3 separate regions of the Homo sapiens genome follow, and regions 1 and 3 are each linked to region 2. The links come from fine-mapping of genetic effects on gene expression. A gene starts in region 2. Each other region holds a variant in brackets. All regions are shown on one strand. Distances are between the middles of the regions.

Region 1 (9,136 bases), 24 kb after region 2:
ACAATGGGGACAGTAACAGCAACAGGACTGTACACCTGACGACCAGGAGCTAAGGACTTCCTTCCTCCAGTCTAAATCCCATAATGAAATCAGGTCAACTTTTTGCTCAGAATTATTATATATCCCTCACATATAGTGGTCCTTAGTGCTTGCTGAATGAGTGATGTGATGGGTAGCACCATTTTGGCCCATAGTCTTTTTCCTATTTTTCCATAGCTGAACGATTTCCATTCTGCCAACAGGGTTGCAGTTAAGTTTTTTTTGTGTGTGTGACAGTCTCACTCTGTCATCCAGGATGGAGTGCAGTGGCACAATGATGGCTCACTGCAGCCTTGACTTTCTGGGCTCAAGCGATCCTCCCACCTCAGCCTCCTGGGTAGCTGGGACTACAGACATGCGCCACTGTGCCCGGCTAATTTGTTTTTATTGTTTTTGTAGAGACAAGCGTTTCGCCACGTTGCCCAGGCTGGTCTTGAACTCCTGAGTTCAAGCAATCTGCCCACCTCAGCCTCCCAAAGTGCTAGGACTACAGGCATGAGCTAATGCCTGGCGAACTTTTACTTTTTTTTGAGATGGAATCTCGCTCTGTCACCCAGGCTGGAGTGCAGTGGTGTGATGGTGGCTCACTGCAACCTCCGCCTCCTGGATTCATGCGATTCTCTTGCCTTAGCCTCCGGAGTGGCCGGGATTACAGTTGCGTGCCACCATGCCCGGCTAATTTTTGTATTTTTAGTAGAAACGGGGTTTTCACCATGTTTGCCAGGCTGGTCTCGAACTCCTGACCTCAGGTGATCCACCTGCCTCGGCCTCCCAAAGTGCTGAGATTACAGGCGTGAGCCACCATGCCCGGCTGCCAAGTTTTACTTTTTAAACCCACTTCTCACTATCAGGAAACCCTTGTGAGGTGAAATAGGTACAATGCCAGAGCCTGAGCTCATGAAAATCAAATACTTACTTGATTGAGGATACAGACATGTGTTTCAGCTGGTTCTTGAGATCCTGAAAGTTCAACCCTTCAGGTCTTGGACAAGCCTTAATCAAATTCAACACCTGAAGATTCAAATCAGAAAGATTTTAGCAATTATTTTGGATCAGCCTCCCCTTTGCAAACCTGAGTCCCTTTATAGAAAAGAAATGAACCAGGTACTTAAACAGTCGTAGCTCATTAAGGAAGTAACAAAATTTAAGACTATCTGTGTTTTGTATTTCTGAAGCCACTCTGGTGGAGGTTACCTGGTTTTGGGCCACAGTGAGGCCATTTGCTGGCATGAAGCTATTCCCACCAAAGTTCCCTGCTTCACTCATTCCTGGATTGCTGATAGGTGCTCTCCCTGCTGAGGGCTGAATTAAGAAATAAGTTAGCAATATTAGAAAATCCATCAAGTTAAACAGTCTTTACTACTTAAAATAGCTCGTTAAGCAGCTTACAAAAAACAATTTATAAACAGTTTCCCAGTTTATAACACTGCTTACATTGGAGTGGACAGCTATTATCTAATGAGTATTTCACAGGAAGATAAAGTAACTCCCCGAAGCACATAAATATCAAAAAGAGAAAGATACTCTTGGCTCCTTTTGTTTGTGATGTCAGACGAACCAGAGAAGAGTAGCAGCAAGAAGAAAATTACCCAGAGTCTGCTATTTTGGTATCCATGGAGCCCAATCATTCAAGCATTCACTGAGTGTCAATAGGCATGAAGCACCACAGGCAGAGAAAAGGAGACACAGTCCCTATCGTCCTCTCTTTCTTTCTTTTTTTTTAACCACCAAATTCTTAAAATGCTCTGCAATCACTATTTTCATTTCCTTTCTCCCCAGTCACTCCTCAGCCCACCATATTTGGGTTGTCCCCCAGTACACCTCTGAAACTGTTTTCACCAAAGTCACCAAAGACTTTTCAACCAATTATCCAAAAGTCTCTTTCAGTCCTCCTAATACTTGACCTCTCGGAAGCAGACACTGCTGACCACACTCCTCTTGAAATGTATTCCTCCCTGGGCTTCTTGACACCACATTCTTCTGGTTCTCCATCTGCCTCTCAAACTGAACCTTCTCAGTATCCCTCATTAGCCTCTTCTATCTGTCTCCCAAAAAGCTGACAGTGTCCCCAGGATCTCATCCCAGACCGCCTCCTAGGCCACAAATCCTCATTGCCAGCCGGACTGCTAACCGGATGCCAACATGGTGAAACCCCGCCTGTATTAAAAATACAAAAATTAGCTGGGTATGGTGGTGCGTACCTGTAATCCCAGATACTGGCGAGGCTGAGGCAGGAGAATTGCTTGAACCCGAGAGGCGGAGGCTGCAGTGAGCCGAGATCACGCCATTGCACTCCAGCCTGAGTGACAGAGTGAGACACTGTCTCGAAAAAAAGGGCCAAGCGTGGTGGCTCATGCCTGTAATCCCAGCACTTTGAAAGGAGGCTGAGACGGGCAGATCACGAGGTCAGGAGATCGAGATCATCCTGGCTAACACGGTGAAACCCCTTCTCTACTAAAAATACAAAAAATTAGCCGGGTGTGGTGGCAGCCGGGTGTGGTGGTGGGCGCCTGTGGTCCCAGCTACTCGGGAGGCTGAGGCAGGAGAATGGCGTGAACCCGGGAGGCGGAGCTTGCAGTGAGCCGAGATCGCACCACTGCACTCCAGCCTGGGCGAAAGAGCGAGACTCTGTCTCAAAAAAAACAAAAACAAAAACAAAAAACCCAAATAAACAAAATTTTAAAAATTTGAGTAAAGGTAATCCTTACCATGGCCTCCAAAGCCCCATATAATCTGGGCCCTGCCTCCTTGCCTACAACCCTCTCCCTCTCCCCTGTCATTCACTTCACTCCAGACACTGGCCTTGCTGGTTTCAGAGATGTCATGCTTACTCCACACTCCTGGCTCTTGCACATCCTAGTCCCTCTGGTTTAGAATGTTCCTCATCTAAAATTGTACCATTCTTGTTCCCTCCATCAGCCTCTTCTCCTGTTTTATTTACTTCAGAGCACCTATATAACTACCTAAAATTATACATATATTTTTGTTTATTACTTGTTTCTCCCAAGAATGTAAGTATATAGTGTTCACTGCTATACTCGAATGCCGACTAGAATGATTGGGACTATCAAATCAAAGTAGGCGCAATAAATATTTTTCTTTTTCTTTATTTTTTTTTGAGACAAGGTTGCTCTGTTGCCCAGGCTGCAGTGAGTGGCACGATCACAGCTCAATGCAGCCTTGACCTCCTGGGCTTAAGTGATCTCCCAACCTCAGCCTTCCAAGTAGCCCATCTAATTCTTTAATTTTTTTTGTAGAGACAGGGTCTCCCTATGTTGCCCAGCGTGGTGTCTTGAACTGGGCTCAAGTGATGCCCCCACACCAGCCTCCCAAAGTGCTGAGATTTCAGGCCATGAACCACCACACCTTGCCCTGAGGGCTTTCTAATACTACAGTCAACTCTAGTTTTGCATGGTCCTAGATGGACTTGTCAAAGTGAATTCACACAATGGAAAATACTAGGGAGAAATTTCAATATGAACCAAGAAATATAATTTCAGGGAAAAAATAATAATACATAATTTTTCCTACTTAGCCAGTAAGTTGGAAGGAAGACAGCAAAATGCTGTCCTGAAGGGGACTACTCTCTGAGTATGCACTGACAATCCTGGAGCTAAGAGCTATATAAGAGCTAAGAGCCTATAATTACATGTCTACACCTGAGGGTTGTCACAGGCCTCAGCTGTCCAGGCCAGTGGAGTCAGAGGAACTCCTAATTCTGAGAGAAACATGAGTGTTTCATCTGGAATAAAATACAATGACAAAGCTAATGGAGAAAGTGTTCTGAGGACTTAGTGATGTCTTTCTCTGGCTCGGCCTTCAAAATATCAAGGAAATCAAAGCTGGAACACAAAAGTAGCCTGTGTTCTTCCAGGGAAGAGAAAAAGCTAGGAAAGCGAGACTACTCACCTGGCTGTTGGCTTTGCTTAGTACCATGTGTGCATTGATCACTTCCAGAATATGTGTGGTGAACTCATTCATATCCTCCAGGGGCATGATCTTAAAGGCTACCAGGCTCTTTTTGTTCTATTAAAATGAAGGAAAAAAATGTGAATAAAATATGAACATACATTAATTTCAGGTCAACACTGTGGCTCTTTCCTTGGTTATAATATTAATATTTCACCAATATGAGAAAAATGTTATATACTCTCAGAGGTATTCCAAATATGGTCAAACATGAGGAGAAAAAAAACTAAAACTAATAGCTAAGGGAC[A/AT]TTAATAATTTTCCCAAGATTGCATAACCAAGCAAAATCTAGACTCCTGACTCCGAATCTAGTGTTCTCCTTTCTCCAACTAATGAACGCCACAGATAGCAATTGTAGAAGGAGATTCTGTTCTTTCTTTACCATTCTGTTAATTTCATGTTAAGGTTAAAAAAAAAAAAAAGAAAAGTTATTTCCTTTTGAAGAGAGTAAGAAATAACTTCCCATTAAACAGGGAGACTTAAGTATTTTAACTATCCAAAAGCCATGACATGAATCTAGAAACTGCTTCATGCAAAAACACTTTAACTGTTATTTTATTCTGACTTTACCTGAAAAGATCTCAGGTGGCCTGCCACTTTCACATATGTTTCTGGAGGAACCACAGTGTTTTCACTGCTGGTGTCCTAACATAAAATACAAACATGTCATTAAAGTTTTAGTGATGCTGGTAAAAGCCTCTTTAACGTTTCTATATTATGTATAGAAAGAGAAAGTTACGAAGTAGAAGAGTTAAAGGATCCTAAAATGGCATTAAGTAGTTTGCCCTGCCTTTTACAACTTATTTTGTAAAACCAGGAATTAGAATAAAAATATCTCTAAAGGTAATTATCAGTTCCAAAGTTCTGTAGCACATCATAAAAAAGCAAACAATTGTGACACTCTCGTTCAAGCTCTTAGGCACACAATTTTCTTTTTTCTTTTTTTGAGAGGGAGTCTCGCTCTGTCACCCAGGCTGGAGTGCAGTGGCACGATCTTGGCTCGCTGCAACCTCCGCCTCCCAAGGGAGGGTTTGAGTAATTCTCCTGCCTCAACTTCCCCAGTAGCTGGGATTACAGGCGCCCGCCACCACGCCCGGCAGGCACACAATTTTCTGGTGGATATACTTATTGGCAAAGCAATTCTACTTTTAGGAATTTAAGGAAGTAATTAAGAACATGCATTAAGATTTAGATTTATCATAGTATAGAATATTAAAAATTTTAAAACAACCTAAATATCCAACATAAAGTACACATTTCTATATAATAGGATACTCCACACTGTTGCAAATGATAACATAGAATTCTATTTACTGCCTGGAAAAACAAGTCATGATACATGGAAAAAAGCTGATTTCCCATTTGGGACAATACACACTAAACTGTTTATAATGGTTGACTAAGATAATTAAAAACGATTTTAATACTTATCAGTTTCCTAGAATATGCACACATTATTTATAAGAAAAATACATTAGCTGATTTTTTTTTTTTTTTTTGAGACGAAGTGTCTTGCTCTGTCACCCAGACTGGAGTGGAGCGGCATGATCTCGGCTCATTGCAACCTCTGCCTCACAAGTTTAAGTGATTCTCCTGCCTCAGCCTCCCAAATAGCTGGGACTATAGGCGCCTGCCACCACACCTGGTTAATTTTTTTGTATTTTTTTTGTATCTTTAGTAGAGACGGGGTTTCCCCATGTTGGCCAGGATGGTCTCGATCTCCTGACCTCATGATCCACCCGTCGCGGCCTCCCAAAGTGCTGGGATTACAGGCTTGAGCCATCGTGTCCGGCCCATTAGCTGATTTTTAAAGTTCTTTTCTGACTACATAAAATGTATTACTTTAAAAAAAATTGAAAATATATCGGGGTATATGGACTCACACCTGTTATCCTAGCACTTTAGGAGGACAAGGCAGGAGGATCCTTCGAGCTCAGGAGTTTGAAACCAGCCTGGGCAACATAGTGAGACCTCGTCTCTAAAAACAAACAAAAAACTAGAAAATATATGCTTAAAAATAAAAACTCTGGCCAGGTGCAGTGACTCATGCCTGTAATCCTAGCATTTTGGGAGGCCAAGGCGAGCAAGTCACTTGAGGTTAGGAGTTCGAGACCAGCCTGGCCAACGTGGTGAAACCCTGCCTCTGTTAATAATACAAAAAAAAGGGTGGGCACAGTGGCTCACGCCTGTAATCCCAGCTCTTTGGGAGGCTGAGGCGGGCGGATCACGAGGTCAGGAGTTCGAGACCAGCCTGGCTAACAGGGAAACCCTGTCTCTACTAAAAATGCAAAGATTAGCCAGGTGTGGTGGTGGGTGCCTGTAGTCCCAGCTACTCGGGAGGCTGAGGCAGGAGAATCACTTGAACCCAGGAGGCAGAGGTTGCAGTGAGAGACTGTGCCACTGCACTCCAGGCTGGGCAACAGAGCAGGACTCTATCTCAAAAAAAAAAAGAAAAAAAAAAAAAAAAAACCACACAAACAAAACAATTGTATTCCCATATACAACATTTTGAATCCACTTGAGAAAAGATCTCTACCTCAACTCCTTTTATCAAAATATATTCCATGTAGATCATAGGTTTAATTATAATAAAAGAAACCATAGAAATAATATGAACAATTTTTTTCTTTTTTTTTGAGACAGAGTCTCGCTCTGTCGCCCAGGCTGGAGTGCAGTGGTGGGATCTCAGCTCACTGCAAGCTCCGCCTTATGGGTTCACACCATTCTCCTGCCTCAGCCTCCCTAGTAGCTGGGACTACAGGCGCCCGCCACCACGCCCGGCTAATTTTTTGTATTTTTAGTAGAGACAAGGTTTCACCCTGTTAACCAGGATGGTCTCGATCTCCTGACCTCGTGATCCGCCCGCCTCGGCCTCCCAAAGTGCTGGGATTACAGGCGTGAGCCACGGTGCCCGGCTTTTGTATTTTTAATAGACAGGGTTTTGCCACATTGACCAGGCTAGTCTTGAACTCCTGACTTCAGGTGATCCACCCGCCTCCGCCTCCCAAAGTGTTGGGATTACAGGCGTCAGCCACCGAACCCAGCTGAGATTTATTTATTTGGTTTTTTGATAAGGTCTCGTTTTATCATCCAGGACGGATTACAATGGTGGGATCTCGGCTCACTGCAGCCTGTGCCTCCCGGGTTCAAGTGATTCTCCTGCCTCAGCCTCCTGAGTAGCTGGGATTACAGGCATGCACCACTGTGCCCGGCTAGTTTTTGCATTTTTAGTAGAGACGGGGTTTTACCTTATTGGCCAGGCTGGTGTCAAACTCCTGGCCTCAAGTGATCCACCTGCCTCAGTCTCCCAAAGTGCTGAGATTACACGCATGAGCCACCGCACCTGGCCAACAGCTCTTTTTTAATCTGAAGTATATATTGGGTGGCTGCTTAAGATTTTTTTTTTTTTTTTGAGATAAGGTCTCGCTCTGTCACCCAGGCTGGAGTGCAATGGCACAATCTGGGCTCACTGCTACCTCCACCTTCAGTGGGGCAAGTAACAGCAGATGTGGTGGAAATAGCAGGAGAACTGGAATTAGAAATGGAGCTTAAAGATATAACTGAATTGCTGTAACTTTATGGTAAAACTTGAGTGGATGAGGAGTTGCTTCCTTTTTTTTGAGACTGAGCCTCACTCTGTTACCCAGGCTGGAGGGCAGTGGCACAATTTTGGCTCACTGCAACCTCCATCTCTCAGGTTCAAGTGATTCTCCTGCCTCACCCTCCCGAGTAGCCAGGATTACAGGCATGTACCACCATGCCCAGCTAAATTTTTTATTTTTAGTAGAGACGAGGTTTCACCATGCTGGCCAGGGTGGTCTCAAACTCCTGACCTCAAATGATCTATCTGGCCGCCTGGGCCTCTCAAAGGAGTTGCTTCTCATGGATGAGCAAATAAACTGGTTTCTTGAGATGGAATCTCCTCCTAGTGAAGATGCTGTGAACATTGTTAAAACGACAATAAAGGATTTAGACTACTCCATAAGTTTAGTTGAGAAAGCAGTAGCAGGGTTTGAGATTGAATCCAATTTTGAAAGAAGTTATACTGTAAGTAAAATGCTATCAAACAGCATGATATAATATCGAGAAATTTTATGTGAAAAGGAGACTCAGTTACTCAGGCAAACTTTGTTGTCTTATTTCAAGAAATTGCCACAGCCAGCTCAACCTTCAGCCAACTACCACCCTCCTCAGTCAGCAGCCATCAACAGTGAGGCAAGAATGTCCACTAGCAAAAACATTATGAATTGCTGAGGGTTCGGATAACTGATTATTACAATTTGTTAGCCATAAAGTTTTTTTTTTTCTTCTTTTTTTGAGAGACAGTTTCGCTCCTGTTGCCCAGGCTGGAGTGCAATGGCGCGATCTCAGCTCACTGCAACCTCCACCTCCTGGGTTCAAGCGATTCTCCTGCCTCAGCCTCCCAAGTAGCTGGCATTACAGGTGCCCACAACCACACCTGGCTAATTTTTGTATTTTTAGTAGACAGGGCTTCACCACATTGGCCAGGCTGGTCTTGAACTCCTGACCTCAGGTGACCCTCCCGCCTCGGCCTCCCAAAGTGCTGGGATTATAGACGTGAGCCACCGCGCCCAGCCACCATAAAGTATTTTTTAACTAAAACAAACAAACAAAAAAAACAAACTTTGGGACTAGTAGAAGCTTCCGAAAGGTAAACTAGAAAAAACTGCACAATTTATTTTTCAAAATTATTTCTTTTTGAGATAGGGTCTTCCCATGCTGCCCAGGCTGGTCTTGAAATTCTGGCCTCAAGTGATCTTCCTGCCTAAGTCTCCTGAAGTGCTAAAGTTACAGGTGTGAGCCACTGTGCCTGGCCTCATTATAAGAGGTCACTATAATCATTTTCAAGTTCTTGCAAACAAAAACACTGTTAGGGGAAGGGGAATCAAAGAGAAAATTTACAAAAACCCCACAAATTGACATTAAACATAGTAAAAAAAAAAATACATATATATGGCTAAAACCAAAGAAATACACATAAAAAAATGACAAAATTTTCACTGAAAAGACTATTTTTTTCTGAGATGGAATATTGCTCTGATGCCCAGGCTAGAGGGCAGTGACGCAATCTTGACTCACTGCAACCTCCATCTCCCAGGCTCAAGCAAT
Region 2 (10,768 bases):
GTTCGAGACCAGCCTTCCCAACATGGCGAAACCCTGTCTCTAGTAAAAATACAAAAAAATTAGCTGGGCGTGGTGGGCACGTCTGTAATCCCAGCTACTCGAGAGGCTGAGGCAGAAGAATCACTTGAACCCAGGAGGCGGAGGTTGCAGTGAGCCAAGATCACACCAGTGCACTCCAGCCTGGGTGACAAGAGCGAGACTCCATCTCAAAAAAAAAAAAAAAAAGATATGCTGAGCATCTTTTCCCGAAAGTGACCTATTTTACTCCTGTGAAAACCTGCACTGGGGGGAGAACCCCTCCCCCATGATCTCCACAGTTGTCTCAGAGGGGCCATGCAGGGTCTGTTCATGTTGTTTTTGTTAATATGAAAGTAATTCAAGGGCAGAGGGGGCAAAATAGCCAGACCCTGTCTCTAAAAAACATTTAAAAATTAAAAATAAGACAAGGCTCCAGACTGGAAGAAAAAAATTTCTTTTAAGTACTCAAACTGTGTTCTGGAAAATCCAGAAAACAGTTACAAGACAAGACATGCCCTTTTGCCACCGTCGCGCCTGGGAACTGTGAGCATTTCTGCAGGAGACCTGTGGGCTGCTGTGGTGCCGTCTTTGTATTGTGGTCATTGCGGAAGGGCGCCATGAAGCCATTGGGCCAGCTGGTGGATCTTGCTCTCCCAGTGAGGGAGCAACTCGAGGACAACTTCGGGACCCACAGGCCAGGCGTGTATCTGCTCTGGTGGGCAGCCTGGGTGCCTGGAGTATCACTGAGTGGCAAACTGCTTGGCAGCATCACACGGTAGGGACACTGGTAACTTCCAGCCAGCATGCGGAGGGCTTCCAGCCCTTCTGCAGGCTCAGGGATGTGCTGGGCCTCCATCCCTCGCCCTCAGAGCACAGGCATTCTCCCTGTCCCTGCCACACTGCCCTTGACCCTGCTGGCTGCTGGGATGTTTCCCACCGCTTTGGGTGAGTGGGCCACGCCGGTGGGTGTTGAAGTGGATGGCAGGACACCTTAACAACCGCTGCCCAGTGCTGTGTCAGTGTTAGGCCCTTACCTTCCTCTACAGTGGGAGGAAACACGGGAGGAGAGGGAGGACCCCACATCCTGCCTGGCAAGTTGCTGAAAAACACCAAGTCACGTGACACATCATATACCGGAGTGTGTGGTGCCACACAGCAGGCACGGGTCTGACCCCATCCTGTCACCCTGCCGCTGTGGCCAGCTGCCTCCTGCACTGTCCAAAGGAGGTCCTGAGCCATCCACCTTCAGAGTCCAAAAGCTGACAGAGATGGGTTGATGAAATGAGGAACTTCTGTTCCCGGTGGCTGGAGGCATCCTCCTCACAGCTGGTGGGGGCGGGGGGACTTCCTTTCTGCCCCTGTCCTACTGTGGGAATCTGAGCTTCTTTCTCTGCCCCATTCAGCTCTTGAGGAGCCAAGGACAGATCCCCAGGCTGGTGCTCCCAACCTGGGGAAGTGAAAAGGGCTTGGGCCGTGACCACCTGCAGGTTCGGTTCAGATTTTAGTTCCTCCATTACACGGGCAACCGCAAGGAAGTCAGGTTCCCATTGAGTGTCTTATTTCCTCAAATAGAATGCAGAGTGTTGGGAGAAATAAAGAAGATGAGAACTCTTGTCAGAGGCACAGGAGGTCTTGGGAAAGAACAATATCATGTAATGATTGTAGATATGGGGTACTGGGCATGTCCCCATGTGCCTGGGTTACACTAACATTTTTACCAACACCTGTCTCCTGCCAGCCTTGGTTGTAAAGAGGGAGAGGAGACTGAGACTCAGAGAGGGTATGGGACTTGCCCAAGGTCACACAGCTAAGAAGTAGTGGAGCCAGGGTTTGAGCCCAGCTCTGTCTATCTCCAAAGCCCATCCTCTACTGAAATTCTAGACATAACTGGGCTGAGCAGAAATCCAGCAAACTTCCACAATCTGCTTAAGCACCTGGGAAAGAAGTGAAGAACGGTCATTTTCTCTGGCCTGCAGGAGGAGCCTAGCAGAGCCGGGTTAAAATCCCAGTGTCTCCACTTGGCATAACCTTAGGCAAGACCCTTCACTTTTGTGAAGCCTGACCCAGGAGGTTGGGGGCTACAGTGAGCTGTGTGTGCAGCACTGCACTCCAGCCTGGGTGACAGAATGAGACCGCCCACCCCTCTCAAAAAAAAAAAAAAAAAAAAAAAAACTAGAAAGAAACACAACAAAATATTAGTAGTTAGTGTAAGTATTTTGGGTGGTGGGTAAAGAATGCCTGCTTTTTATTAATCAAATGTTCTTTAGTTAGAATTTATTCATTGTATTTTAAACTTCTGTTATTATCTTTGATTAAAAGTCTTTTGTTACTTTTATAGTGACAAAAAAACTAAATATGGCATTTTGCACAATACCTATATCATCTTATTCAATCCTCACAATCTGCTGAGATATAATTCTTTCTCCTATTTTATTATTTTTTTATTTTTTTAGAGACAGGTTCTCACTCTGTTGCCTAGGCTGGGGCTGGAGTGCAGTGGCATGATCATAGCTCACTGCAGTCTCGACCTCCCAGGCTCAAGCCACCCTCCTGCCTCAGTCTCCTGAGTAGCTGAGAGTGCAGGTGCATGCCACCATGCCTGGATATTTTATTTATTTACTTATTTATTTATTTATTTTTGAGATGGAGTCTTGCTCTGTTACCCAGGCTGGAGTAAAGTGGCGTGATCTCGGCTCACTGCAACCTCTGCCCCCCCGGGTTCAAGCGATTCTCCTGCCTCAGCCTCCCGAGTAGCTGGGATTACAGGCACGCACCACCACACCCAGCTAATTTTTTTTTTTTTTTGAGACAGAGTTTTGCTCTTGTTACCCAAGCTGGAGTGTAATGATGCAATTTCGGCTCACTGCAAACTCCACATCCCGGGTTCAAGCGATTCTCCTGCCTCAGCCTCCTGAGTAGATAGGATTACAGGCACGTGCCACCACGCCCAGCTACTTTTGTATTTTTAGTAGAGCCGGGGTTTCTCCCTGTTGGTCAGGCTGGTCTCGAACTCCTGACCTCAGGTGATCTGTCCAACTTGGCCTCCCAAAGTACTGGGATTACAGGCGTGAGTCATTGTGCCCAGTAATTTTTTTGTATTTTTAGTAGAGACAGGGTTTTGCCATATTGGCCAGGCTGGTCTTGAACTCCTGACTTCAGGAGATCTGCCCGCCTCACCCTCCCAAAGTGCTAGGATTATAGGCGTGAGCCACCGCGCCTGGCCTTATTTTATTTTATTCTTTTTTTTAAGAGACAGGGTCTTGCTAGTTTGCCCAGGGTGGTCTAGGACTCCTGGTCTCAAGTGATCCTCCTGCCTCAGTCTCCCAAAGTGCTGGGATTACAGGCCACACCCAGCCTCTTCTCCCTGTTTTTTTGTTTTTGTTTTTGTTTTTTGAGACGGAGTTTTGCTCTTGTTGCCCAAGCTGGAGTGCAATGGTACAATCTCGGCTCACTGCAACCTCTGCCTCCCAGGTTCAAGCGATTCTCCTGCCTCAGCCTCCCGAGTAGCTGGGATTAGAGGTGTGTGCCACCACGTCTGGCTAGGTTTTTTTGTATTTTTAGTAGAAACGGGTTTTCACCATGTTAGTCTGGTCTCAAACTCCTGACCTCAGGTGATCCACCCGCCTCGGCCTCCCAAAGTGCTGGGATTATAGGCGTGAGCCATTGCGCCCGGCCCTCTTCTCCCTGTTTTAGAGAGTAAGAAACTGAGGTTCACACAATCAAAGTGATTTGCCTAACGTCATACAACGAGCAAGAGGAGACCTGGGATTTGAACCTATGTTGGTCTGACTCCTGAGGGACAGGGAAATGGAAAAGGCTTATCCCGAGCCTGTGGGGTCAGGATAAGTGGTTGGTCCGGCTTCTAAGCAGATTTCTCTTTAGCCTTAGGAAGAATTTTTAACTAGAATTGGTGAGGCCCGGCGTGGTGGCTCACAGGTGGATCACACCTGTGATCCCAGCACTTTGGGAGGCCGAGGTGGGAGGATCACTTGAGTCCAGGAGTTCGAGGCCAACGTAGACAATAATTATCGAAAGAGTATGGGAGTTCTGGAGAGGTAATGAGATCCCCTTCACCAGGAGGTTTCCGATAGAGGACCATGGAGTGTCCTGGAGGGACATTCGGGAGCCCTGACACTACATCTCCCTCCTCAAACCCAAAGGGCAGAGGCATGTCCCTCCTATGAGACGCAGAACAAGTCGGGCCGCGTCCCCTTTTTCTAACTGGGAGCACTGCTGAGGGGGCGTCTGGGACTTCTTCATCTTCATCATCGCCCCTTCCCCATAGGGTACTGCAGGGGGCGGGGGGCGGGGCTTCGGCGGGGCGGGGCTGCAGGGCTCCCGCGGGCTGGCGGGGCGGCTTCGGCGTGCGGGGCGGGGCATCGGCGGGGCGGGGCTGCAGGGCTCCCGGGGACCGCCCGCCCGCCCCTCAGTCTGAGCCCAGAGAGCCGCGGGGACCATGGAGCCGGTGCCGCTGCAGGACTTCGTGCGCGCCTTGGACCCCGCCTCCCTCCCGCGCGTGCTGCGGGTCTGCTCGGGGGTCTACTTCGAGGGTGAGCGGGGGCTGGAACCCCTCCGAGCACTCCCTTGGTGTGGGGCGGGGGCAGAGACCCGGAGAAGACGTTAGCAATCCGGGGAAACTGCCCCTGGGTTCAAATCCCGACACTGCCACTGGCCAAGCTGTGTGATTTGGGGCCGCACTCAACCTCTTTGGACCTCGGCTTTTGCTTTCGTGGAACGGGGACCGCTGACCTGCCCCGCAGGGTAGTGATGAAAAGTCAGTGGGTTGAGGCGCGGGAGGTGGATGCAGCCGGGCCACTCCTAGGTGGCCCCGCGGTGCGCATGGGACAGAGCTCCGACCGCGCCGGGACGCAGCATTAGGCCGCTGGTGGTCGTGGCTGCGTCTTGATTCTGAAGTGCAGGGTCAGTCTTCCCGTCTGTGTCCTCCCACTCCTCCCCCGGCCCTCCTCTACACTGCCTTCCTTCAGTCCCTGCGTCCACCTTGGCCTTCTGTTTGACCATGGGCAGTACTTGATTTGATCAGCTCTTCAGTTCTCAGCTTAAATGGCGCTTCCTCCCGGAAGCCTTCCTGGCTCTCTGCTCCTTGCACGCCCCCGTACATCTGCCGTCTGCCCGCAGCGGCCTGGTTCACAGGGATGGGCACACAGCAGGCGCACAGTCACTAGTCATTGCCTGAAGGAGCAAGCGGTGAGGGAATAACAGACAGTGGAGGGCAGGGTAAGACAGCACAGTGGATGGGTGGCCAGTGCTGCTCTGTGGGCAGGGAGGACCCGTGGGCCACCGAGTAGGGGAGATGGAGGTGGAGGAGAGAGATGCTGTGTGGGGGTGCGGGTTCCTTCCTTAGAGAGCGAACTGAGGCTTGAAGGCCCTGCCCCATCCTGTTCCCTGGCTGCAGAAAAACGCTCTGTCGCAGCAGCTTCCAGCAGAGTGTTTGAGGTCCCAAGTGGGGTCCTAGACCAAGGAGGTCCCTCATGAAGGGTCCCGCAGGGGGCCACCACCTCGCAGTGGGTCTCTCCAGGTCTGCTTGGGAATCTGGCAGATCTGGGTTCAAATTCTGACTCTACCTCCAGGGGCTTTCTGCAGGAAGGCGCCTGGGATCTGTTTGCTCTTCCCCCAGCCCAGGACCAAGCGTCTTCGTCCTCCCAGCACCCTTTGCCTGCTGGTGTTACAACACCTGTTTCCTCATCCTGCCTGACGCGGGATGGTGGAAATGGTGGAAGTCAGAGTGATGGTGACTAGAGAAGGCCCTGACAGGGTGTGGGTGTGCGGATGGGGTGAGTGCGGAGGACAGATGGCCATGCCAATAGGGGCAGGCGTCTACAGGGCACTCAGAAGGGGCTGGCTGCGTGGTTGGTTAGGAGCACTGGCTCTGGAGGCAAACACCCTGGGTTCAACCTAGGTTTTTTTTTTTTTTTTTGAGACAGAGTCTGGCTCTGTTGCCCAGGCTGGAGTGCAGTGGCACGATACAGCTCACTGCGGCCTCGACCTCCTGGGCTCAAGTGATCCTCCCACCTCAGCTTCCTGAGAGGCTGGGACCACAGGCACGCACCAGGACAACGTCCAGCTAATTTTTGTATTTTTTGTAAAGATGGGGTTTTGTCATTTTGCCCAGGCCGGTCTCAAACCCCTGGACTCAAGTGATCTGCCTGCCTCGGCCTCCCAAAGTGTTAGGATTACAGGCATGAGCCACCACACCAGGCCCTGTTTTTTGTTTAATAGAACATAGGTTGTGTGTGATAGCTCATGCTTATAATCTCAACACTTTGGGAGGCTGAGGTGGGAAGATTGCTTGAGCCTAGGAGTTCGAGATCAGCCCTGGCAACATGGTGAGACATCATGTCTACAAAAAATTTTAAAATAAAAAATTGCAGGGTGTGGTGGCTCATGCTTGTAATCCCAGCACTTTGGGAGGCTGAGGCAGGAGGATCACTTGAACTCAGGGGTTCAAGACCAACCTGGGTAACATACTGAGACCGTGTCTCTACACAAAATAAAAAAATTAGTCAGGTGTGATGGTGCATGCCTGTAGTCTCAGCAACTCAGGAGGCTGAGGTGGGAGGATTGCTTGAGCCTGGGAGGTTGAGGTTGCAGTGAGCTATGATTGCACCACTGCACTCCAGTCTGGGCGACAGTGAGACTCTGTCTCGAAAAAAAGGACGAGGTCTGTGTTGCCCAGGCTGGTCTTGAATTCCTGTCCTCAAGCAGTCCTCCCACTTTAGCCTCCCAAAGTGTTGGGATTACAAGCGTGAGCCACCGCACCCAGCCATAACTTCCAGTTCTGCCTCCTATTACCTGATCATCATGTACAACCTACTCAGCCCCTGAGAGGCTGTTTCTTTTTCTTCTTCTTCTTTTTTTTTTTTGAGATGGAGTCTCCCTCTGTCACCCAGGCTGGAGTGCAGTAGCCTGATTTCAGCTCACTGCAACCTCCACCTCCTGGGTTCAAGCAATTCTCCTGCCTCAGCCTCCTGAGTAGCTGGGATTACAGGTGCCAACCTCCACACTGGGCTAATTTTTGTATTTTTAGTAGAGACGGGGTTTCACCATGTTGGCCAGGCTGATCTCGAACTCCTGATCTCAGGTGATCCCCCTGTCTTGGCCTCCCAAAGTGCTGGGATTACAGGCATGAGCCACCATTCCTGGCCAGCTGTTTCATTATTTAGGAAATTGAAACTGCCTGTCTCCGCAAGAGCAGTCATGGGTCTTAAACACAATGACGCATCAGTAGCCCTTGGCACAGTGCCGGGTATCTGTAGTACCACAGCTGCTGTTCTCACCAGTCTGGAAGGCCCATGCTCTGACATTGTAAACAGACTGTGGTTTATGACTGGTGGGCATTTTCCTGGCAGTACGTGGGGAGGTTTTCATCAGTTTCTCAGGGCTGATGTTGGAGCTGCCCTGTGGGTGGGGCTGGGTTCAGGTGGCCTCAAGGTCCTGCCACGTAGTCTGTTGTCCTCCATTAGCTGGATGGAGAGACTGTGCACTCGTGTGTGCGTGAGAGATCTTTATTGAGCAACTTCTGTGTTCTCGACACCACTTACACACTTTAATTAATTAATTTATTTTTATTTATTATTTTTTTTTTGAGACGGAGTCTCACTCTGTCACCCAGGCTGGAGTGAAGTGGCGTGATCTCGGCTCACTGCAAGCTCCGCCTCCCGGGTTCACGCCATTCTCCTGCCTCAGCCTCCCGAGTAGCTGGAACTACAGGTGCCCGCCACCATGCCTGGCTAATTTTTTTTGTATTTTTAGTAGAGTCGGGGTTTCCCTGTGTTAGCCAGGATGGTCTCGATCTCCTGATCTCGTGATCCACCCACCTTGGCCCCCCAAAGTGCTGGGATTACAGGCGTGAGCCACCGCGCCCAACCCTCACTTACACACTTTAAACCAGGAAAGCAGAACTTTGCCCATTGGGCCTCACTCTGTCAGTGCCCCTCTATTTTCCAGGGTGCTAGGAGGGCTGGGTACCGGCCCTGGCTCCGGGTGATCTCCAGGGAGCCACTGACCCCTCTCTGAGCCTGATTTTGTAGCTGTACACTAAGGGAATCCCAACTCCCTTAGTGTACAGCTACAAAATCAGGCTCAGAGAGGGGGATTCACTGGGTTATTTACTGATTTGTGGACTTACCACATACTCAGAGGCCAAGCCCTGTGCTGGCTGCAGTGATGTTGAGATGGATCAGCCCTGCCTGTGAACTCAGTGGAGGAGGCACGGGGATGTGAAAAAGGCCAGAGAAGTGTGCCACAGCGGGGTGCACCGATGCCAGGAGGGGCAAGGACAGCTGAGGACGACTGAACCTGTGGGCATGAGGCAGGAACGACAGAGCAGGGCATGCCAGGCAGCAGGCACCATGTGCAAAGGCATGGCAGAGCAGAGCTTGTTGGGCACCAGGGCACAGGCTGCCCAGCACTTGGCCCTTGTCCAATGGGGAAATGGAGTCCTTGTCTCCGCAGGCTCCATCTATGAGATCTCTGGGAATGAGTGCTGCCTCTCCACGGGGGACCTGATCAAGGTCACCCAGGTCCGCCTCCAGAAGGTGGTCTGTGAGAACCCGAAGACCAGCCAGACCATGGAGCTCGCCCCCAACTTCCAGGGTAAGGTGGGCACCTCTGCCTCCCCATGTGCCCTGGCACTCTCCTGGCACACCCGCAGGCTGCTCGTGGGCTTGCCACGTCCAGCAGTCACTCCCTCCCCTCGGGGTTTGCTCCCGAGGCCCTCACATTCACCACAACCCAGCCTCAAGGGTGGGGATGTCCTCAGAGGGTCGGCAATGCCCTGGACTCAGAGAGGTTGCACCCTCTCCCTCTCAGTCTCTGGTCACACCTGCCTCTGTTCCAAGCCCTGTCCAGGTGCCTGTCTCTGAGTTCACTCACACATTCACTCCCCAAACATCTGCAGACACCCATGTGTGCCAGGCTCCGTGTGGCGGGCTGTGGGTATGGGGGTCAGGATGAATCAGGTGCCACCCTCTCCAGTGGGGAGCTTCTGGGATGACAGTGAGAGGAGGCCAACAGTAAAAGGAGTCATAAGCTTTAGAGAGGGGTCTGAGCAACAGTAACCTGCCTCAGGATCTGTGAGGGCTTCTTGGAGGAGGTGGCATCTGAACCAGAAGAAAGATCCCAGCCACAGGGAGTAGCATGTGCACATTTGGTGCTCAGGAAACCCCAAGGAGCTCAATTCTTATTATTTTTTTTTATTTTTACTTTTTGGAGATGGAGTCTCGCTCTGTCACCCAAGCTGGAGTGCAGTGGCGTGATCTGGACTCACTGCAAGCTCTGCCTCCCGGGTTCCCACCATTCTACTGCCTCAGCCTCCCGAGTAGCTGGGACTACAGGCGCCCGCCACCACACCCAGCTAATTTTTTTTGTATTTTTAGTAGAGACAAAGTTTCACCGTGTTAACCAGGATGATCTCGATCTCCTGACCTCGTGATCTGCCCGCCTTGGCCTCCCAAAGTGCTGGGATTACAGGCATGAGCCACCATGCCCGGCCAGAGCTCAATTATTTTAAGAGGCATGTAGTGTGGTGGGCCATGGCCTGGACCCTGAAGCCAGTGGCCTGGAATTGAATCCCAGTGGCCTTGGGCAAGCTAGGCAGGTTCCTCTCTGGGCCTCTCTGGGACCTCCCTGGGCCTCAGTTTCCTCTTCTGTAATGAGGGCGATTAGGCTTGATATGAGGATGAAATGAGCTGATATGTATACAGCACTTAGAAGGGGGCCTGGGACAGGCTGGGTGCAGTGGCTGGTGGCTCATGCCTGTGATCCCAGCTCTTTGGGAGGCTGAGGCGGGTGGATCACCTGAGGTCAGGAGTTCAAGACCAGCCCGGCCAACATGGTGAAACCCCATCTCTGCTAAAAATACAAAAATTAGCTAGGGGTGGTGGGGGGCACCTGTAATCCCAGCTATTCAGGAGGCTGAGGCATGAGAATCACTTGAACCTGGGAGGTGGAGGTTGCAGCCTGTGCAATAGAGAGAGACTCTGTCTCTCAAAAAAAAAAAAAAAAAAAGTGGGGAGGGGGCACCTGGTACAAAGCAGGCACACTCTGAGGACTGGCTGTTATGTGACTGCCTGCCAGATGCGGGAAAGTGTGGCTTCCAGGTTAGGGGCAAGTTGTGTGGGGAGCCGCAGGAGCCACACCACCTGGGGGCTATGTGGTGTGCTGACACTGTTTGTTCTTTATTTCGAAGGCAATGAGGAGCCAGTGAGGGTTTTTTGTTTCATTTTTAGTAGAGACAGGGTCTTGCTATGTTCTCCAGCCTGGTCTCACTCAAACTCTTGGGTTCATGTGATCCTCCTGCCTCGGCCTCCCAAAGTGTTGGCATTACAGGCGTGAGCCAGTGTGCCCAGCCAAAAACGGCCTCAGGTTTCCTTTTTTCTTTCCCCCGTCAAGTGTTAAACATTTGTTACATGTGTTTCTCTCCCTCTCCATACATACACACACACGAATGTATTACTATATGTGTATATATGGATGTGTTTTTTCTGAACCATTTGAGAGTAAATTGCAGACATGTTCCCTTTTACATCTATATATTACCCCTAAATATTATAGTATCTCCCCAAAACAAGGACATTCATTCACATGGTTCAATGATCAAATTCAGGAAACTTAATTTTGGTACAGTACTACTGCCTAATCCATGGGCTGTATTTGAATTCCAGCAACTATCCTCATAATATGCTTTATAGCAGTTTTTCCCCTCAATCCAGAGTCCAGTCCTAGATCACAC
Region 3 (10,768 bases), 62 kb after region 2:
AGGTGGGCGGATCCCTTGAGCCCAAAAGTTTGAGACCCACCTGGGTAACCCAGCCAAACCCCCTTTTTGCTAAATATACAAAAATTAGCCAGGCGTGGTGGTGTGCGCTTGTAGTCCCAGATACCTGAGAGGCTGAGGTGAGAGGATTGCTTAAGCCTGGGAGTTCAGGGCTGCAATGAGCCATGATAGTGCCACTGCACTCCAGCCTGGGTGACAGAGCAAGACCCTGTCTCAGAAAAAAAAAAAAAGAAAAGAAGCCCTGCATGCAGTCAAAAGCTGAGTAAGACTCCAGCACCCCTCAGATGGGCTTATGAGGAGCTCCTGTGCCCTCCCAGAACTCTCTCCCTTGTTCCAATTTCAGGTGTAACCATTGCCAACTGCCTGCTCAGCCCTGGGAGCACTGGCTGCCCTAGACTCCTTGCCTGCCCTCCTTCCCCACCAGTCCCATAGGTTACCTTCCACGCATACCTCGACATGCCCTAGATTATAAATCAGGCCACAGGCTCAGGGGCAAGAAAAGTCACACGGCTTTATTTTCATTAAATCAATAGCAGTGGGTCTCTGAGCTTTCTTCCCTCGGGACTGGCAGAAGATTCAGTCTCAGTGATTATTTTGATGCCCCTCATTTCCTTGGGGTGACCTAGGCCCTAAACAGAAATGGGGCTTTAGTCTGTAGTTGTTTGTGGACATAATATACTCATCGGCTAAGGCTACACAGTTCCTAGGGGCTGGAAATTCTGCTGCACCTCTGACCCCAGGGACTTAGCTAGGCCAGGAGCCTTGTGGTTGATTCATTTGTGCAATGCCCATGTTTTCAGCTGAATGTAAGCCCTGTGAAGGCAGAGGCTTTGCATTGTTGCATTGTTCACCACTGTCTTTTTTTTCTTTTCTTTTTCAGACGGAGTTTGCTCTTGTTGCCCAGGCTGGAGTGCAATAGCGTGGTCTCAGCTAACTGCAACCTCCACCTCCCGGGCTCAAGCAAGTCTCCTGCCTCAGCCTCCCGAGTAGCTGGGATTACAGGCATCTGCCACCACATCCAGATAATTTTTGTAATTTTAGTAGAGATGGGGTTTCACCATGTTGGCCAGGCTGGTCTTGAACTCCTGACCTCAGGTGATCTGCCTGCCTCGGCCTCCCAAAGTGCTGGGATTACAGGTGTGAGCCACCGCGCCCAGCCTGTTCACCACTTTCTAGACATCCAATATTTATTGAACCCAAGTAAATGTCCAAGGACTTCCTGTCTGAGAATCTGCTACCTTCCAGGGGCAACCTGAACTCTTAAGATCCAGCAACGTCTGTTTGCTGCCCTGGCTATGCCAGTCTCCCCTCTCTTATGACTGTTCCCTCCCTCCTTTCACTACCCCCTCTAGGAGGTCAGAGGACACACCCTGGAGGTAGCTGTCTCCAAGAAGCTGTGGCTTTCTACTCTGCCACATCCTCCTCCAAGGGAAGGGATCTTTGCTACCTACTTAGAATGGGGTTTAAAAATACAGTTAGAGGCCAGGCGTGGTGGCTCAAGCCTGTAATCCTAGTACTTTGGGAGGCCGAGGCGGGCGGATCATGGGGTCAGGAGTTCGAGACCATCCTGGCCAACATGGTGAAACCCTGTCTCTACTAAAAATACAAAAAAATTAGCCGGGCTTGGTGGCGGGCACCTGTAGTCCCAGCTACTCGGGAGGCTGAGGCAGGAGAATGGCGTGAACCCGGGAGGCGGAGCTTGCAGTGAGCCGAGATGGCACCACTGCACTCCAGCCTGGGGGACAGAGCCAGACTCCGTCTCAAAAAAAAAAAAAAAAAAAATACAGTTAGAACAGGAACTACTCAACCAATTACCCAGCCACAGCCTCTTCAGTTCCTCCCTACTACTAGTTACCAGTTCCTAAGCGTAGCCCCTTACAGCTTTTCACCAAGACTTCTGCTATGGTTTAAATGCTTGTTCGCTCTAAAGCTGGTGTTATAATTGGTTACCATTATGGAGGTATTGGGAGGTTGGACCTTTAGAAGGTGATTGGGCCATCAGGGCTCCACTCTCATGAGTGGGAGTAATGCTGTTACAAAAGGGCAAGTTTGGTCTTCTTTTGTCTTGGCCCTTTGCCAAGACATGCCATGTGAGGACTCAGCCTTTCTCCTCTCCAGAGGATGCAGCATGCAAGGCATCATCTTGGAAGAAGCGAATGGCCTTACCAGACACCCAGCCTGCTGGTGCCTTGATCTTACACTTTCCAGCCTGCAGAACTGTGAGCCAATACACTTCTGCTCTTTATTAAATACTCAGTCTCAGGTATTCTGTTATAACAGCACAGAAAGGACTATGACAACTTCCCTGCCTTAGCCTCCTTGCTTGCTGGTTTCCCCAAAAATCCATCTTCCACAGAGCCAGTGCATCTTTCTAAAATGCAAATTAGGTTGTGTCTCTGCCATAGCTCCCCACAGCTCTCAGCTCAAACAGCTGAGCACAACCTGGCTCCTGCCTGCTTCCCCAGGCTTAGCACCCCAAGCCCAATATCACCCAACTCAGCTCTCTGGGATGATTCAGCTCCTTCTGCCTGGGATACCCTCCTCCCCAGCTTTCTCCTTTTCCTGCTAACTCCTACTTGTAAATTAAGGTTAAGCTGGTGGGACAACCATATCTTACGTGCTTTGCCATGCAAAACAACAGGAAAGACCCAAGACCACCTGAGAAGTCTTCTTCCCCAAAAGTCAAACCTGAATGTCATCAAACCCTTGGCTGTAACTATCAGTTTACAGGAAATATGGGGGACAGAGGAATATGTTAAATGACACCACCAGAAAGGAATCAGCCAAATCCTCCAGAATGTGGGAAATTCACAGGACAAAGAACAAGGAAAAAATGGGGAGAGGGCAGGAGAGCTACAAATTAAGGGAGACTTAAGAGACACATCTACCAAATGCAATGTGTGGACCTTGTTTGGACCCTGATTTGAAAGAACCCGCTGTAAAAAAAAAAAAAAAAAAAAAGAGACATCAGGGAAATTTGGTGACATCAGGGAAACTGACCACATATCTGCCTGGTGGAAGTAAGGAATTACTGTTTTTCTTTTTCTTTCTTTTTTTTTTTGAGGTGGAGTCTCGCTCTGTCGCCCAGGCTAGAGTGCAGTGGCACTATCTCGGCTCACTGCAAGCTCCGCCTCCCGGGTTCAAGTGATTCTCCTGCCTCAGCCTCCCAAGTAGCTGGGATTACAGGTGTGAGCCACCACGCCTGGTGGAATTACTATTTTTTTTTTTAGATCTGATAATGTGTTAGAAAAAGAGAGTCCTAGCCGGGTGCAGTGGCTCACGCCTGTAATCCCAGCACTTTGGGAGGCCAAGTTGGGCAGATCACCTGAGGTTGGGAGTTTGAGACCAGCCTGACCAATATGGAGAAACCCCATCTCTACTAAAAATACAAAATTAGCCAGGTGTGGTGGCGCATGCCTGTAATACCAGCTACTCGGGAGGCAGAGACAGGATAATCACTTGAACCCGGGAGGCCGATTTTGCGGTGAGCCGAGATCCTGCCATTGCACTCCAGCCTGGGCAACAAGAGTGAAACTCCATCTCAAAAAAAAAAAAAAAAAGAAAGAAAGAAAAAGAGAATCCTTACCTTTTAGAGATAAATACTGTTTACGTTCAAGATGATATGATCACTGGAATTTAACATCATACAGTGAGGGCCAGGTATGATAGCTCACACCTGTCAGCCCAGTGCTTTGGGAGGCTGAGGTGGGAGGATCACTTGAAGCCAGGAGTTTGGGACCAGCCTGAGTAATGTAGTGAGATGCTGTTTCTAAAAAAAAAAAAAAAAAAAGCCAGGTGAGGTAGCGAGTGCCTATAGTTCCAGCTATTCCAGAGGTTGAAGCAGGAAGATAGGAAGATAGCTTGAGTCCAGGAGCTCGAGGCTGCAGTGAGCTATTATTATCTTGCCACTGCACTCTAGCCTGGGTGGCAGAGTGAGACAACCCCCTTCTTTTTTTTTTTTTTTTTTTTTTTTGAGACAGAGTCTTGCTCTATCACCCAGGCTGGAATGCAATGATGCAATCTTGGCTTACTGCAACTTCTACCTCCCAGGCTCAAGGGATCCTCCTGCCTCAGCCTCCCAAGTAGCTGGACTATAGACATGTATTACCATGCCCAGCTAATTTTTTTATTTTTTGTAGAGATGGTGTTTCACTATGTTGCTCAGGATGGCCTCAAACTCCTGGGCTCAAGCGATCCTCCTGCCTTAGCCTACCAAAGTGCTGGGATTACAGACATGAGCCACTGCACCCAGCCTGAGACACTTCTCTAAAAAAATACATAAATAAATAAAAGTTAAAATAATAAAAAATTTTAAAAGTTGTTTAAATAGGGCCGGGCGCGGTGGCTCATGCCTGTAATCCCAGCACTTTGGGAGGCCGAGACGGGTGGATCACAAGGTCAGGAGATCGAGACCATCCTGGCTAACACAGTGAAACCCCGTCTCTACTAAAAATACAAAAAAATAGCCGGGCGTGGTGGCGGGCGCCTGTAGTCCCAGCTACTCGGGAGGCTGAGGCAGGAGAATGGTGTGAATCCGGGAGGCAGAGCTTGCAGTGAGCTGAGATGGTGCCACTGCACTACAGCCTGGGTGACAGAATGAGACTCCGTCTCAAAAAAAAAAAAAAGTTGTTTAAATACATAAAATAATCAAAAGTGAGTATAGATGAAATAAGAGTGGCCATAAGTTCATAATTACTGAAGCTGGAGGAAGGTACTTGGGGGTTCATTACACCATTCTCTCTCCTGTTTCTGTTTGACTGTTTCCATAATACAATGTTAAGAAAGGATTAAACGTGTCACCCCCTCCTAGAAGCCCTCTCACATTCCTCAGTCTGAATTAGATCCCCCTTTCCGGGGCTTGCCAATACACCTGATGTGCTGACCGGCAATTCTGTTGTTTGCCCCTCCCTCTTGGGGGCAGGGGCTGCACTGGCAGGAGAGGTGTGGCTTCCACTTAAGGGTCCGGTATGCCTGCCTCCTCGGGCCAGCCCAGATCATACCCTGCTGGGCAAAGGAGGAAGAGCCAGAGGATCCAGACGCCTTGGAGGACTTGGAACACCTGTAACAGGACAAGGAGTTCTGCTC[A/C]GGCACGTGGCCACAGAAAACTACTTAGGAAGCCTGTGGTGAGAACAACAACAGTGCCTGAGAATCCCACGGCTCTGGGGAAGTGAGCCCCGAGGATGAGGCTGCTCGCCTGGCTGATTTTCCTGGCTAACTGGGGAGGTGCCAGGGCTGAACCAGGTACAGCACTGGGAATGTCTGCTATGCCTTTGTTTTGTACTGTGAACTCTGGGGCTGCGGGAAGCTGCTCGCAGCCAGCTTGAAGGTGCTTCTAAAGATAGCAAGGCAGGAGCTAGGCAGGGAGGCAGGTGGGGAGAGCTAGTGGGCCTTAGCAAGTGCTGTTTGAGGCTGAAGATTTTAAGTGGAGGCGCCAGCTGGCCAGGGAGGGACACCGACATTGCGAAGAGGTCTGGGTACGTGAGAGCTAGCTAATTAGTAGAGGTAGGAGGTGGCAGGAAAGATTCGTGGACTCATTCAACAAATGAGGTCCTTTCCTGTACCATACGTTATTCTAGGAGCCAGGGATATATCAGAGAAGAAAAGAAAGTCCCCGTCTCAATGAAGAATTCCTTCATCTGGGGAGAAAAAAACAAACCACACGAACAAGTAAAGTACGCAGCATTGGAGGAGATGATAAGTGTTATGGGGAAAATAAAGTAGAACAGGGAAGGCGGGTTGTGGGGAGGGGGTACTTACAAGACGTCCAGAGAAGAGCTGTCAAATCAGGTGACACTCAAGTGGAGCCTTGAGGCAGTGAGTGGGGGAGCCACATGGGTGTCCAGAACATTACAGGAAGAGAGGACAGTGCACGGGGTCTGAGGTGGACACACAGGAGATGTGCATGAGGAACAGCAAGGAAGCCCGCGTGGCTGAAGCAGGGTGGGCAGGACAAGTGGGGGTGAGGTTGGCAGATGGTGGGGTGGGGCAGGTGCCAAATCATGGATAGCCTCGAAGACTCTCTTGAGGACTCAGACATTTTTCTTTCCACGTGCCTGTAGATAGGAAGGACGCAGGCTTTTGCTCAGGGTGAAATGGGATGTCATTGGAGGGTTCTAGGCACAGGTGTAATCTATTCTGACTTCTGTATGTTTAAAAGGACCCTTGAGGCCAGACGCAGTGGCTAACATCTGTAATCCCAGCACTTTGGGAGGCTGAGGAGGGTGGATTGCTTGAGTCCAGGAGTTTGAGACCAGCCTGGGCAACATAGCAAAACCCTGACTCTACTAAAAATACCAAAAATTAGCTGGGTGTGGTAGTGGGTGCCTGTAGTGCCAGCTACTTGGGAGACTCAGCTGGGAGAATTACCTGAGCCTGGGAGGTTGAGGCTGCAGTGAGCTGTGATTGTGCCACTGCACCCCAGCCTGGGTGACGGGAATGAGACCATCTCAAAAAAAAAAAAGAAAATGAAAGAAAAAAATTCTCTTTATAGCCCCTCTGAAGTAGGTGCTAATATCATTATACCCATTTTGCAGATGAGGCAAATGAGTCTCAGAGGGGACATTGCACTTGCTGAAGATCTCCCAGCTGGGAAATGGCAGGACAAAGCCTGTGCCTGGCTGTACTATGCTTCATGTCCTCTTGGGATGGTGGGGTTTAGAGGTACTATTTTTTTCTCTTTTCTCCAAACTTGCTGGAATGTATTCCTTTTAAAGTAAATTTAAAAGGAATTCCGGGCCGGATGCGGTGGCTCACGCCTGTAATCCCAGCACTTTGGGAGGCCGAGGCGGGCGGATCACGAGGTCAGGAGATTGAGACAATCCTGGCTAATACGGTGAAACTAAAAATACTCTACTAAAAGTACAAAAAATTAGCCAGGCGTGGTGATGAGCACCTGTCGTCCCAGCTACTTGGGAGGCTGAAGCAGGAGAATGGGGTAAACCCGGGAGGTGGAGCTTGCAGTGAGCCGAGATTGCACCACTGCACTCCAGCCTGGGCGACAGAGTGAGGCTCCGTCTCAAAAAACAAACAAACAAACAAACAACAACAAAAAAAGGAATTCCGCAGCACCTGTAAGGTTTTTCCAACTCCAGGTGTCTTCCTGAAGCACAGGTGGATTCTGAGACAGGGGATCAGACAGCATCATCCCTGCTTTGCATTAAACTGTGGGATTTCTGCCTCCACTTTCCTTAGCCAGGAGCTTGGGTGGATGCCAACTTGCTGGCTCCTTCTCCTCCTACACATGTCCTGTGTAACATTTCGCTCCTTCCTCAGCTTCTAACTGCAGAGAAGCAGACAGGTTCTTCCCCTGTGGGTTAGCTTGGTAGGAAAACACTCCCTGGAAGGCCAGCCCAGGGCTGAGGGAGCAGGACCAGGGCAGGAATGGTAACACCTACCTCTGGAGCTATTGTGAACAGAGGGTATTCACTGTAGGTGGTCCGTAAATGTAGGTTTTAACAAATGAACTCCATGGGTTTTGGAGGGCCTCCATTTACAAAGGATGAATTACAATTGTGTTTTGGGGCTAATGCTAGCCTTAATAGCAAAGGACTGAAATAGAGACTGAGACCATTGTGTGGTGTGGGTTATAGGCAATAACAGACAAAAGCCACTGAATCACAGGAGTCAGACTAGGAGGGCCTTCAGGGAACCTCTGTTCAGTACTTTCATCTTATACTTGAGGAAACGGAGGCTGAGGGGCAGTGTGGCCCAGGGAATGAGTCCTAAGGCTGCCTTGCTCACCCCACAGCCAGGTGCTCTGTATAAGAGAACTCTTTTACCTGCACAACTGAGGCAGGAGGTGGGACTGGACTCCAGAGGCAGGGCTTTGACACCAGACCAGATTGAGGACTAGCTAAAATACGGCCTGGGCAAAAGCAGTTTTCAAACACACCCAGCAGTGTGGCATGTCAATTTACCTTTGCAATGGCAACACCCAGGAGTTACTGCCCCTTCTATGGCAGTAACCCAATGATTTAAAAGTTACTACCCCTTCCCTAGAAATTTCTGCATAAATGCCCCTTAATCTCCAGGCAATTAAAAGTGGGTATAAATGTGACTGCAAAACTGCCCTGAGCTGCTACTCTCTGCCTCTGGGGTAGCCCTGCTCTGCAGGAGCAGTCATGGAGCTGTACATCACCTGTTCACCAAAGCTGTTTGCTTCAACCTCAAGCTTGCCCTTGAATTTTTTCCTGGGCAAAGCCAAGAACCCTCATGGGCTAAGCTCCACTTTGGGGCTCACCTGCTCTGCATCACAAGCATCCCTCTGCTGGGTGCATTCTAATCCTCATTTTATAGATGAGGAAACTAAGGCTCAGCTCTGAAAATCCCTTGCTTAAGTTGCCACTGCCTGTATGGAAGAGCCAGGATTCAAAATAAGATGTCCCTGATTGCAGGTTTCATGCATGTCCTTGCAGAAATAACTTACTGCCTGAAGCCAGAAAACTTAGGTCCTACCTGTGGTCCTGCCTTTGAATACCTGTGTGACCTGCAACCTTTATTTTACTGTTTATAAAATAGGGATGTTAGCAGAGGAGAGATTAAATGTGATGGCCTTAAGTGAGATCATGCCAGGTACATTGTAAAATGTTGTAAAAGTTTAAGGAGGCATACACACAGATGGTCCCTGACTTACGAAGATTCCACTAAGCTGTATGATGGGGCGAAAGCCTTAGGCATTCATTAGAAACCACACTTCGAGAAGCCATACAACCACTCTGTGTTTCACTTTCAATTCAGTATTTAATACATTGCAAGAGACATTCAACACTTAATTATAAAATAGGTCTGCATCAGATGATTTTGCCCAACTGTAGGCTAATGTAAGTGTTCTGAGCTCCTTTAAGGTAGACTGGGCTAAGCTACGATGCCCTTTGGTAGGTTGGGTGTGTTGAATGCATTTTTGACTTATGATATTTTCAATTTTGGGGGACGTAGCCCCATTGTAAGTCAAGGAAAACCTGTATATATCTCCAAGGCCATGCTGGTAGGTGGTGGCAGAATATAGTGCACTGTGATCATTTCCATTCTGACGTGCTCGGCATCCCCGGTCTGCCGCTCACTCGCTCAGTTTCCTCATCTGTAAAATGAGTACATCTTAGGATGCATTTCATAATGTTGTCATGAGGCTGCATGGATAGAGTGTGTGGCACAGTGTCTGGCATTCAGTAGGTGCTAAATGAATGGCAGATGCCTTCCTGCCCCCCTGTCTCCAACCATAAGGGAACTCACCTTCTAGCCATTTTAAGAACTTAGGTTTTATAAATGACTATGACTATGGGAGTTCTCCCCACCCCTATCACAAATCATACTAAAAAGATCCCATATCATGTATGATTTTAATTTTTTTATCTTATTTTTCTTTTTTGGAGACAGGGTCTCTATCTGTTGCTCAGGCTGGAGTGCGGTGCTGCAATCATAGCTCAAGGTAACCTCAAACTCCTGGACTTTAGGGATCCTCCTGCCTCAGCCTCCCAAGTACGGAGAAATTAAATTTCTTTTTAAAAAGTAGCTGAGTGTGGTGGCATATACCTGCATTCCTAGTGTGGTGGCTCATACCTGTAATCCTAGCACTTTGGGAGGCCGAGGCAGGCAGATCACTTGAGCTCAGGAATTTGAGACCAGACTGGGCAACATGGCAAACCCCACCTCTACAAAAAAGTACAAGAAAATTTGCCAGGCCTGGTGGCACGTGCCTGTAGTCCCAGCTACTTGGGGGACTAAGGTGGGAGAATCAGTTGAGCCCAGGAGGTTGAGGCTGCAGTGACCCAGGATCACACTGCTGCACTCCAGCCTGGGTTTTTGTTTGTTTGTTTTTGTTTGTTTGTTTGTTTGTTTGTTTTTGTAGAGGCACGGTTTTGAACTCCTGGCCTCAAGTGATCCTCCCACTTTGGCCTCCCAAAGCACTGGGATTACCGGTGTGAGCCAATGCATGTGGCCCATGAGATTTTTAATATTGCTTTTGAAATGAATTGTTGATTTTGATGACTTACTTGATATTTGTAATTTTTGTCTTTCCTGCACTTTTAGAGTCAATGCATTTTTTTCCAAGTCTCAGATATTTCTGTGGGCCTTGCAGAGCTATGAGGCCTTGGGCCCTATGTCTGTTGTCCCTAGTGAGCATAAAGGCCTGGTGATCCCCTTTGGTGAAGGAGGAGGCGGGCCAGGACACTTTTTGCCTGCCCAGGGACGCGCTGTGCCCACCAGTCCTCCTCTTAGAGATGGTCATCTGGGGCAGACAGGCTCTATCTTCATCTTGTTTCCCTTCAGATGTCCTGCCTGCCCTGCCCCTGCACTTTACCTGTGGACAGTAGCCAAGGACACGCTGGGGCTGGCTGGGTAGAACGTGGCCACTCCCCACCTTGTCCTGTCTCTCATGGTGAGAGGGGGCCTTGTAGAACCCCCCAGGAACCAAATGTGGAGTAACCACTGCTTCCCATTTATGAAATCATCTCACATTTCTCATTTTAATTCTCACGAGGGCCCCAAGGGGTAGGGGGCGCTGTTATCTTGATTTTACAGAGGAGGAAACGGGCCCAGGGGAAGGTTCCGCTGTTCACACAGCTATGGGGTGGTGCAGTAGGACTCCCTCCCAGGTCTGTGGCCTCAGCTACTCACTGTACTCAATACCAAATTTATTTATCTTCTCAGTAATAAATGAATAATAATGATAGCTGAGATTGGTGTACCTTTCTATAAAACTCAAGTTATAGATGAATACTGTCTTACTGTAAAAGGTCCAAGCAGTGCGAAT

Evidence for each region. PIP is the estimated chance that this variant, and not a neighbour inherited with it, causes the effect.
Region 1: its variant is fine-mapped to the expression of THEMIS2 in macrophages (Alasoo 2018, PIP 0.95).
Region 3: its variant is fine-mapped to the expression of THEMIS2 in whole blood (TOPMed, PIP above 0.99).

Annotation. Positions count from the first base shown.
Region 1 is chr1:27,893,057-27,902,192 of GRCh38, forward strand. It overlaps RPA2 (replication protein A2), which reads right to left. Exons shown (of 9, transcript NM_002946.5): 5 at 4,577-4,651; 6 at 3,949-4,065; 7 at 1,234-1,341; 8 at 956-1,050. Among named protein-coding and RNA genes, the nearest start is that of RPA2, 17 kb to the right of the region's middle. The variant A/AT (reference allele first, on the strand shown) is at 4,257.
Region 2 is chr1:27,868,098-27,878,865 of GRCh38, forward strand. THEMIS2 (thymocyte selection associated family member 2) reads left to right here and starts at 4,447. Exons shown (of 6, transcript NM_001105556.3): 1 at 4,447-4,568; 2 at 8,491-8,631. The coding sequence starts at 4,475. RefSeq lists an enhancer at 1,572-1,621 and a silencer at 4,295-4,564.
Region 3 is chr1:27,929,986-27,940,753 of GRCh38, forward strand. SMPDL3B (sphingomyelin phosphodiesterase acid like 3B) reads left to right here and starts at 5,015. Exons shown (of 8, transcript NM_014474.4): 1 at 5,015-5,259. The coding sequence starts at 5,199. RefSeq lists enhancers at 4,649-5,550, 10,433-10,727 and a silencer at 4,877-5,142. The variant A/C (reference allele first, on the strand shown) is at 5,104.